Linked DNA regions of Homo sapiens: region 2 is linked to region 1. The links come from fine-mapping of genetic effects on gene expression. A gene starts in region 1. The other region holds a variant in brackets. All regions are shown on one strand. Distances are from middle to middle. Region 1 holds the start of OOEP (oocyte expressed protein). Region 2 overlaps DDX43 (DEAD-box helicase 43).

What was found. PIP is the estimated chance that this variant, and not a neighbour inherited with it, causes the effect. A credible set is the group of variants that fine-mapping cannot tell apart.
Region 2: its variant is the best candidate, but not a certain one, in a credible set for the expression of OOEP in visceral fat (GTEx, PIP 0.86).

Annotation. Positions count from the first base shown.
Region 1 is chr6:73,367,261-73,372,641 of GRCh38, reverse strand. It overlaps OOEP (oocyte expressed protein), which reads left to right and starts at 2,745. Exons shown (of 3, transcript NM_001080507.3): 1 at 2,745-3,039; 2 at 3,257-3,436; 3 at 3,779-4,087. The coding sequence starts at 2,850. The coding sequence ends at 3,858. It overlaps OOEP-AS1 (OOEP antisense RNA 1), which reads right to left and starts at 2,938. Exons shown (of 2, transcript NR_174946.1): 1 at 2,557-2,938.
Region 2 is chr6:73,409,654-73,415,034 of GRCh38, reverse strand. It overlaps DDX43 (DEAD-box helicase 43), which reads right to left. Exons shown (of 17, transcript NM_018665.3): 11 at 2,743-2,830; 12 at 1,250-1,377; 13 at 956-1,065; 14 at 349-487. Among named protein-coding and RNA genes, the nearest start is that of DDX43, 18 kb to the right of the region's middle. The variant C/T (reference allele first, on the strand shown) is at 2,603.

The DNA of each region.
Region 1 (5,381 bases):
GGAGGCCCACGTGACTGACTGAGCTCCCAAAAGGTTTTCTTGCACAATAGCCCTCCTGTTTTGGCAGGCTCAGGTGCAAAGGCCTATCGGTCTCCCCAAAGCTGAGAGATGCGAAACCAACACTTGCGAATCAGATTCTGGCCTCTCACTGAGCAGGGAGGTTCTTTCCTCAGGGGAGAGCAGTAATCCCACAGGATCATTTCTTCCTTGAGGAAGAAATAACTGAACTAGCCACTGTTGGGCTACACCTGAGACTGAGTTGTATCTGAGACTAACTGCTTCACGGTGTCCAGCATGCTGGGGATTTATGTGGGGTTTATGGCAGAAGATCCCCACAAGATAATGGGGTGCCATCTTTTCCACACCAGGAAGTGGAATTTGAGAGAAGTTAACTTATTCCTGTGTGGCTCAGATCACCACAGTCCCCCTAAAGAAGCTGTTAAAATTCTATACATGCTGGGTAAAATATTCTTTGTCTACAGTAATGTAAGTGCGTCTCATGATTAGATTAAGGCTTTAATTTTTTTAGGTTTATTTTTAGGGTCTCGCTCTGTCACCCAAGCAGGAGTGCAGTGGTGTGATCATGGCTCACTGCACCCTCAAACCCCTTGGCTTAAGCGATCTGCTAGCCTCCACCTCCTAAAGGGCTGGGATTACAGGCACGAGCCACAATATCTGGCCTTGATTAGGTTAAGGGGTTTTTGTTTGTTTTTTGAGATGGAGTCTCACTCTGTAGCCCAGGCTGGAGTGTAGTGGTGCCATTTTGGCTCACTGCAACCTCTGCCTCTGGGGTTCAAGCAATTCTCCTGCCTCATCCTTTCGAGTAGCTGGGATTGCAGGTAACCACCACACACTGGCCAAATTTTTTTATTTTTATTTTTTTTTATTTTTGAGACAGAGTTTTGCTCTTGTTGTCCAGGCTGGAGTGCAATGGTGTGATCTTGGCTCACGACAACCTCCGCCTCCTGGGTTCAAGTGATTCTCCTGCCTCAGCCTCCTGAGTAGCTGGGATTATAGGCATGCACCACCATGTCCGGCTAATCTTTTGTATTTTTAGTACAGACTAGGTTTCTCCATGTTGGTCAGGCTGGTCTCGAACTCCCGACCTCAGGTGATCTGCCCGCCTCAGCCTCCCAAAGTGCTGGGATTACAGGCATGAGTGACCGTGTCTGGCCCACACCCATCTAATTTTTGTATTTTTAGTAGAGACCGGTTTTCTCCATGTTGGTCAGGCTGGTCTCAAACTCCTGACCTCAAGTGATCCTCCTGCCTTGGCCTCCCGAAGTGCTGGGATTATAGGCATGAGCCACCTTGCCTGGCCAGGTTAAGGTTTTAAATGTTTATTGCATCAGAGCCATAGCTAAATCTTGTTTTCCTGTAAGTATGCCCTGCACACCTGATAGTCAAGTTTTCTCAGAAACCATTGAGGGTGAGAGGGGGTGGGATCAGGGGCAGAAAACTGGAACCTCCACACAGTCCTAGATGATCATGTGGAGTCTGGAACATGCTTTTCACTATTTTGAGTTTTTTCTTCTATGCTGGCTGTGGTGGCTCACGCCTGTAATCCCAGCACTTTGGGAGGCCAAAGTGAGAGGACTGCTTGAGCCTAGGAGTTCAAAACCAGCCTGGCAACATAGTGGGACCCTGTCTCTACAAACAGACAAACAACAACAACAACAAAAAGAGCTGGAAAATAGCTGGGTGTGGTGGCAGGTGCCTGTGGTCTCAGCTACTCAGGAGGCTGAGATGGGAGGGTCGCTTAGGCCTGGGAGGTCGAGGCTTCAGTGAACCGAGATCGTGCCACTGCATTCCAGCCTAGGCAAGAGAGTGAGACCTATCTCAGAAAAATAGAAGTTTTAAAACAAACACATAGTTAATTGTAAGAACGAAATAGTATATTCAGCAGATACTATTCTGAAACAACCAAACAATATTTCTACAAATATAGTAGAAAATGTGTAAGGACATGCATGGGGATGATATATACACACTAGCTTCAGGATGATTTCCTCTGGAGAAGGAAAGGAAAGATGCTTGAGTAATATCTGTTTTAAAAACAGAGGAGTGAGGCAAATGTGGGGAAATGTCAACATCTGTTAAACTCGGGGAGGGTACATGGCCGTGTTATATTACTTTTTTGGATGTGTGAAACCTTTCATAATCCAAATTTTTAATTAAAATTACAAACATTGGGAAAAAATGTCCATCGATAATGGTTGTCTTAGGATACTGGAAATAAAGGAAAATTGTCTAACTTGCTACATGTTCTATAAGACCACCTCTGACGTGTTGTTTAAAACATGACACACTTGCTTGAATGATTTAAAAATGGTAACCATCCGGAGAGTCAGAAGATAACAACAGGGAGCAGAACAGAGAAAACTGACACATTGAACAAGCCTGCCCTGGGTCCGATATACCTATCTTTGGGAGGCAACGATGAAACCTTAACCTAGCCAGCAAAGGTGATTCCCAGTCTATTAATAGAGTCGTCAATTCAAACTCACACTGTTAATCAGCTATAAGGTGGGCAGAGGACTTTCAGGCTAAGCATACCTTACGAGCAGAGATGACGAAGGAGAGCATTGGAGACCCAACAGGAGGCCAAATGAATACTAGTTCAAGGTCAAAGAGGCAATCCCGGCGATTGAAGCAGCGCAGGAAGTGTCCAATGGTGCCGCTATGCCGGGGCGTCGCTTGCACCCGCTCACCCCGACGCGGTGCGAGGCGCCGCCGGAAGGGGCGGAGCGGGTCGAATATGGTAAAAGAGAGCCCGAGCTTCGCGCCTGGGTCTGGAAGAGGTCTTGCGAAAGCCGCCTCGAGCGCGCTCCGCGGCTGCTGGTCCCAGTATGGTCGATGATGCTGGTGCCGCTGAGTCCCAGCGGGGCAAACAGACTCCGGCCCACTCCCTGGAGCAGCTGCGTAGGTTACCACTTCCGCCGCCACAGATTCGCATCCGGCCCTGGTGGTTTCCGGTGCAGGAACTGAGAGACCCTTTGGTGTTCTACCTAGAGGCATGGCTGGCAGACGAGCTCTTTGGTGAGCGACCCCAGGTGTGCTAGTGGGCTGTCCACCTCCAGTCTGAGAGAGGCTTGGCAGAGCAGCTCTCTACAGTCTCTTTCCCAGATTCGCAAGCCAGGAGTGTTGCAGTGATGCCCACCTTCCAGTTCTTCCCTTCCCTGGCCAACATTCCCTTCAAATCCAGCTTCTAACCTGCCACCGTGCAGCCCCTCAGAGTTTTTCCTTACTTGTTTAGGCCCAGACCGAGCCATAATTCCAGAAATGGAGTGGACGAGCCAGGCCCTGCTGACAGTGGACATAGTGGACTCAGGGAACCTAGTCGAAATCACCGTTTTCGGGCGGCCCCGTGTACAGAATCGGGTGAAGAGCATGCTCCTGTGCCTGGCATGGTTTCACCGAGAACATCGTGCCCGAGGTGAGGGTCTTTGAGAACCTGCATGTGGAGGAAGCCACGAGTGACCATACTGGCCTTGCTCGGTTTCCTTCCATCCTCCCTTAACCTTCTCAAAATTTCTTGGTTTCCAGACCCCAGGGAGCTAGCTGTACGAAGTTTGTTGGGAGGGGATCCTGGGGTAGGACCTTGGGAAAGTCAGCAGAGATCTGATAGATTCAGACCCATCACTGCCCAAGTCAGCCTCACCTGGGTTACAGCACTATCGCAGATCTTTCTCTCCTCCCCAACTCCCAGTCACGGAGTAGTTCGAAACAGCAAACACTTGTCCCTGTCCATGGTTAGTATCAACTGCTTCTCTTCCAGCTGAGAAGATGAAACACCTTGAGAAGAACTTGAAGGCCCATGCATCAGACCCCCACTCTCCCCAGGATCCTGTTGCTTAAGACAACATAGTTACTGTTGGGAACATCTTAACTTTCTAACTTTTGCTGCTAAAGTTGAAGAAAAGCAAGTATAGCATTCTTAAATCCCCGTATTCCTTTTTCCTGTGTCTTGATGGATTGTGGTTTATTTTGTTGCAAGAGTGAGTTTGAACTATTCTAATAAAGAAATGGCTATTTTGCCAAAAGCATTAAGATCTTCACACACTTATAATAAAGCAAATTTATAAAAGATTGACTCCCACTCATGTTTTGATATGAAGGGTGGGCAGGTGATAGTTTTGTAGGTTTTTGTTTTTGTTTTTTTTTCCTGAATTCCCATCATTTTGAAACTCCTAATCCTTTTATGATTTTCTGGTCAGAGAGAGGCCCTCACCCACAGGGAGCGGATATGCAGGGGCAGATAACCTCACAAATGGTGATCTGTTTTGTTTTTACATAATTGGTCCTCAAACTTTAAAGCTTGTAAGAAATCACCTTGGGAGCTTGTTAAAACACAATTTCCTTGGCTCCTTCTCCAGAGAATTCTGATTCAGTACTTTTGGGGTGGGGCTTAAAATTTCATTTCTGATGAGCTCACACATACTACTAAAGCAGCTTATCTGAGGCTCTCACTTTGAAGCTGGTAATTGATCCCCCGAAGAGCACCAGCTGTGCGTTTTCCTGGAGTGGGGCATCCATTGGGCAGAGGATGACGTTGCAAGAAGCAAGCCTGGGCGGTCAGCGTTCATTAATGGTAGTTTTCGATTTACCACGGAAGAGCAGGGTTCCCAGGCACCTTGGCTCGTGGATGGCGCCCTGCCTTGGAGCCGGCTGTCTACCTTTTTCTACAAGGCGAGGCTGCACGGGTGTCCGGCATGGGCCAGGTTGTTTTTCCACTACGTGTTGTACTGAAATTACCAATCTCTGCAAAACAGCTCCTATCCTTGCCGCCCCACTTTCTGGAAGTAGAATTTTTGGGGCGAAAGGTGCCAAAAGCCCTGTGGGTTCAAGCACAGTTTGGATTGGTTTGACTCATGGAATTTATTCACTCCTTGGCAATAAAGTATTCTAGCCTTTTGCAAGCGTTTTAAACTCACAAGTCTCTTTAATTGTGCTTTTTTGATTAGAGGTGATGTTGAATATTTTCTTTGTTTCAGTTTTACATTTTTCTTTATTCATTCCTTTTTTTTTTTTTTTTTTTTTTTGAGATGGAGTCGCTCTGTCCCCCAGGCTGGGGTGCAGTGGCGCAATCTCGGCTCACTGTACGCTCCGCCTCCCAGGTTCACCCCATTCTCCTGCCTCAGCCTCCCGAGTAGCTGGGACTGCAGGCGCCCGCCACCATGCCCGGCTAATTTTTTTTTTGTATTTTAGTAGAGACGGGGTTTCATTGTGTTAGCCAGGATGGTCTCCATCTCCTGACCTCGTGATCCGTCCACCTCAGCCTCCCAAAGTGCTGGGATTACAGGCGTGAGCCACCGTGCCCAGCTTTCCTGGTGAGATTTTTATTGTTTATTTTTATTTATTTTTGAGATGGAGTCTCGCTC
Region 2 (5,381 bases), 42 kb before region 1:
TAAGCCACCGTGCCCGGCCCAGTGGTAGCTCTCTTAAGAGGAAAAAGGTCGTCTCATATCCATACCAATTTGTCAATAACCTTCAGAGTAACCACTGGGTACAGAGCTCAGCGGTGACACTAGATATAAAACACATAGAACCAGATATAAGAAGCTAATCATGGATGGAATCTGGTTGAGTCTGGAACAAGCCAAATGAACAGGGATAAATAAAGTAGCAAGTATAATCTGGGAAGTAGCTGAAAAATTATAGGTAATAGAATAAAATGGTTTTCTGGGCAAGAAGTTTGTGAGAGGAATAAGGAGAATCTAGAATTGGCCTTTCATGGGTGGACTAAGCTTACTTACCCTGCTCTTCCCGTGCGCCCTATTCGGTGTACGTATTCTTCAATATTCCGTGGAAAGTCAAAATTATAGACATGTGTAACGTCATGGACATCAAGTCCTCTAGAGGCTAGATCAGTTGCAATTAGTATTCTCACTTTGCCTAAAAAGTAAAGCCAAATGAACACTGAACCATTCTGGTATAAACCAACCCAAGATCTAAAAATAATATTTGCCCTAACTAATTTAATCAATTTTATTTCTTACTGTTTACATTAAAATGCTTACTTTGTGAAAATGGAAAAGTAACTGCCGGCAAGTTACAAGATACCATGGTTCAGCAAATGGGTCCTAAACCCTTCGAACCATGACAGAAAGATACATTTTTCAGATAACTTCAGATATATTTTCTGTTGCATATTAATACCTTGATATCCAAGTTTAAAGTCTTGTGTTTATTTAATACTTAAAGGCAGATTAATGTTTAGAGCTCTAATGAGTGTAGTTGTAGGATACAGAAGGTGAGGACAGATCTTAGAAATAAATGGGTTTCATGAAAAGATGTTACTCAGCCAAGCCCAGGTATTGCACTAATTTTAAACTGTATGAAATACTAATTACATAAACATACCTGTTTTAAAGTTCTCTAATGCTTTCTCCCGATCTCTCTGTTCTCTATCTCCATGCAGAGACTCTACTGATATATTTCCAAGTATTAGGTCACTTGATAAGTGATCCGCACTGAAGCAAAAGATAAACTCAGCATTCTTAGGTGCTTATTCTAATGCCACCAGTTTTACTTCTGTTAGCAAAAATCTAAAGTAACATAACAGACTTATCACCCCCATTTGGAATTAGTATACAAATAGAAATGATCCTAATCAATTTAATTAATTATAATGGACACACAAGAAAAAATACCTACACAGCTTTTCGAGAAACGAAGACAATGACTTTGTCTGTGGATGACATACTCTGTAGAAAAGTTTGCATGTGACTCCATTTCTCTTCCTCGGTGGTTACAATTATATTTTGCTTCACTGAACTTACAGCCTAAAGGATTCAAAGAACATAGTTCATCAAGGTCATCATGATTGAGGGTGAGACCGCATACATCAGCTCAAAATGCATCTTCTCTCTCATTGGTTAATGTTTTTAATAAACTGCTAAGCAAAATGGCAGACGTCCTAAAAAAATTACCTGTTTCTACTCAAGATTTGTATCTTAGATGTCACTTAACCTCAAAATACTATTGGTACCATTCCTTCAACCAACTATTTGTCTCTAATCATTTTATTTCATTTATTTATTTTTGAGACAGAGTCTCACTCTGTCGCCAGGGCTGGAGTGCAGTGGCGCAATGTCGCTAACCATTTTATAAAACAAATGTTAAATGGATCACCATTTGTAAATCTCTAATGAAATAAGGGGTGTAAGCAATGACCCATTATTATTAATGATTAAGTGAAAGGCCAATTTCATTTATTAATGATTAAGCAAAAAGCCAGAAAGAGAACTTTATATTATAATGGAGGGTTCCCACTGACAACACATGAACCCAATATTCAGTCTTAACTTCATAAAGGGAACAGACTTATATTTATGTATATATGTAGACCTACGTTTAGACCCTGATTCTAACAGGGTTAAAATTAGGTATCAGAAAAATATAAACCCTGACTTTGCTGGGTGCGGTGGCTCACGCCTGTAATCCCAGCACTTTGGGAGGCCAAGGGGGCAGATCGCCTGAGGTCAGGAGTTTGAGACCAGCCTGGCCAACATGGCAAAACCCTGTCTCTACTAAAATACAAAACTTAGCCAGGAGTAGTAGCCATGTTTGTAACCCCAGCTACTCAGGAGGCTGAGGCACAAGAATCACTTGAACCCAGGAGGCAGAGGTTGCAGTGAGCTGAGATCACCCCACTGCACTCCAGCCTGGGCAATACAGTGAGACTCTGACACACACACACACACACACACACGCTATATATCACTTGCACATGCGTGCGCACGCACGCGCACACACACACACGCGCGCGCGCACACACACACACACACACACACACACACACTATATATATATATCACTTGAACCCAGGAGGCAGAGGTTGCAGTGAGCCGAGATCACCCCACTGCACTCCAGCCTGGGCAATACAGTGAGACTCTGACACAAACACACACACACACACACTCTCTCTCTCTCTCTCTCTATACATATATAGGCCCTGACTAGAGGTTGATGGTATTAGCTGATTATTGAAATTTCAAATGAGATAAT[C/T]GTATTACAGCTCTATTAAAACTATATGCAAGTGTGATTTGCCCTAAAATTGGGGAGTGGGCAGACTAGGCACACCAAAATTAGCTATCTTCAGAATTTTCATAAGAAATGTTAAACAATAGTAATAAAAAAAAGCTTACAACTAGATCCAATGTACCAACATAGACAATCATTGGTTCTTTCAAATAAGATTGTGCGAGGCGATGAACTGAATGAGGCCATGTAGCACTGGGAATACAAGTTACAAACATTACAATTTTGTTGTAAAAACATTACTATGTTTCCTTAAGCATGCTATGAACCAAGTTACTCATGAAAGACAAATTTAGTACTTATTTTTTCAATAAGTAAGGCAAATTTAACAGTTAATTCACTAATTACTCAACTACTGTAAAGCTATTAGATGAAACAAATATGTTTAATAAATAGGTTTTTGGCTGGGCCCAGTGGCTCACGCCTGTAATCCCAGCACTTCGGGAGGCCAAGGCGGGTGGATCACCTGAGGTCAGGAGTTCAAGACTAGCCTGGCCAACATGATAAAACCACGTCTCTACTGAAAATACAAAAATCAGCTGGGTGTGTTAGCGGACGCCTGTAATCCCAGCTACTCCGGAGGCTGAGGCAGGAAAATGGCTTGAGCCCAGGAGGCGGAGGTTGCAGTGAGCCAAGATTGTGCCACTATACTCCAGCCACCGCAACAAAAGCGAAACTCCGTCTCATAAATAAGTAAATAAATACTAGGTTTTTATGAACCAAAGGATACCTGTACACCTTCAACTAAATACTAATCTATGAAAAGCTAAGGCCGTGTGTGGTGGCTCATGCCTGTAATCCCAGCACTTTGCGAGGCTGAGGAGAGGCGGATCACTTGAGGTCAGGAGTTTGAGACCAGCCTGGTCAACATGGGGAAAGTCTGTGCCTACTAAAAATACAAAAATAAGTCAGGCGTGGTGGTGCGTGCCTATAATCCCAGCTACTCGGGAGGCTGAGGCAGAAGAATCACTTGAATCTGGGAAGCAGAGGTTGCAGTGAGTGGAGATCATGCCACTGCACTCCAGCCTGGGTGACAGAGTGAGACTCTGTCTCAAAAAAAAAAAAAGAAAGAAAAGAAAAAAAGGTACTAAAAGGGATTACTATTAGGTTAATTTTATCTCCTGGCCTTTATAAACGACAAAAAAATTCCAATTTTTCATAGGGTCAGCAGGCAATACCAAGTATTTAAGCCAAATAAATTTTTTTTTTTTTTTTTTTTTTTTTGAGATGGAGTCTTGCTCTGTCACCCAGGTTGGAGTGCAGTGGCGTGATCTCGGCTCACTGCAAGCTCCGCCTCCCAGGTTCACGCCATTCTCCTGCCTCAGGCTCCCGAGTAGCTGGGACTATAGGCGCCCGCCACCACTCCCGGGTAAATTTAGTAGAGACGGGGTTTCACCGTGTTAGCCAGGATGGTCTCGATCTCCTGACCTCGTGATTCGCTCGTCTCGGCCTCCCAAAGTGCTGGGATTACAGGCGTGAGCCACGGCGCCTGGCCATAAAAATCTTTTAAAAGGTTGTTGGCTCATGCCTGTAATCCCAGCACTTTGGGAGGCTTAGGTGGGTGGATCACTTGAGCTCAGGAGTTCAAGACTAGCATGGGCAACATGGTGATAACCCTGTCTCTACAAAAAATACAAAAATGAGCTGGGTGTGGTGGCATGCACCTGTAGTTCCAGTTACTCAGAAGGCTGAGGTGGGAGAATCGCTTGAGCTGGGAAGGCTGAGACTGCAGTGAGGCAAAATGGTGCCACTGCATTCCATCCTGGGTGACAGAGTGAGACCCTGTCTCAAAACGCAAAACAAAACAAACCTTCAAAATATACTGATCAAAGAATATCTGCATTTAAATGTTTCCTCAACTATATATAAAATAATGAAAGTGACCACTTTGTATACCTTCACAGTAATTCAATAAAATCTAAGTTCTCTTTTCTTGGGCTGGGCATCGTGGCTCAAGCTTGTAATCCCAGCACTTTGGGAGGCCTAGACAGATGAATCACCTGAGGTCAGGAGTTTGAGACCAGCCTGGCCAACATGGCGAAACCCCATCGGTAAAAATACAATAATTAGCTGGGCATGGTGACGTGTGCCTGTAGTCCCAGCTACTCAGGAGGCTGAGACAGGAGAATTGCTTGAACCCGGGAGGCAGAGGTTGCAGTTAGCCGAGATCGCGCTGCTGCACTCCAGCTTGAGTGTCAGCGAGACTTTGTCTCAAAATAAATAAATACATTCACTTTTCTTGAAATAGGAAGGTTATTTGTAATAAAACTATGTGAGGGGATTTTGTATTTTTTAAATTTTATATTATTTATACTAATAAAGACAAAGTATATAAGCCCAGGATATATCATTCTTTTTTTTTTTTTTTTGAGACAGATTTTCACTCTTGTTGCCCAGACTGGAGTGCAGTGGCATGATCTTGGCTCAGTGCAACCTCTACCTCCCAGGTTCAAACGATCCTCCTGCCTCAGTCTTCCTAGTAGCTGGGACTACAAGTGTGCGCCACTATGCCCGGCTAAGTTTGTATTTTTAGTAGAGACGAGGTTTCACCATGTTGGCCAGGCTGGCCTCAAACTCCTGACCTCGGGTGATCCACCCACCTCGGCCTCCCAAAGAGCTGGGATTATAGGCGTGAGCCAGTTTGCCCAGCCAATGTTGTTATTTATACTAATAAAGGATATAAGCCTAGGAGATATCATTCTTTATAGATCACTCATTCAAATAATCATTGCTTCCTGTTTTATTG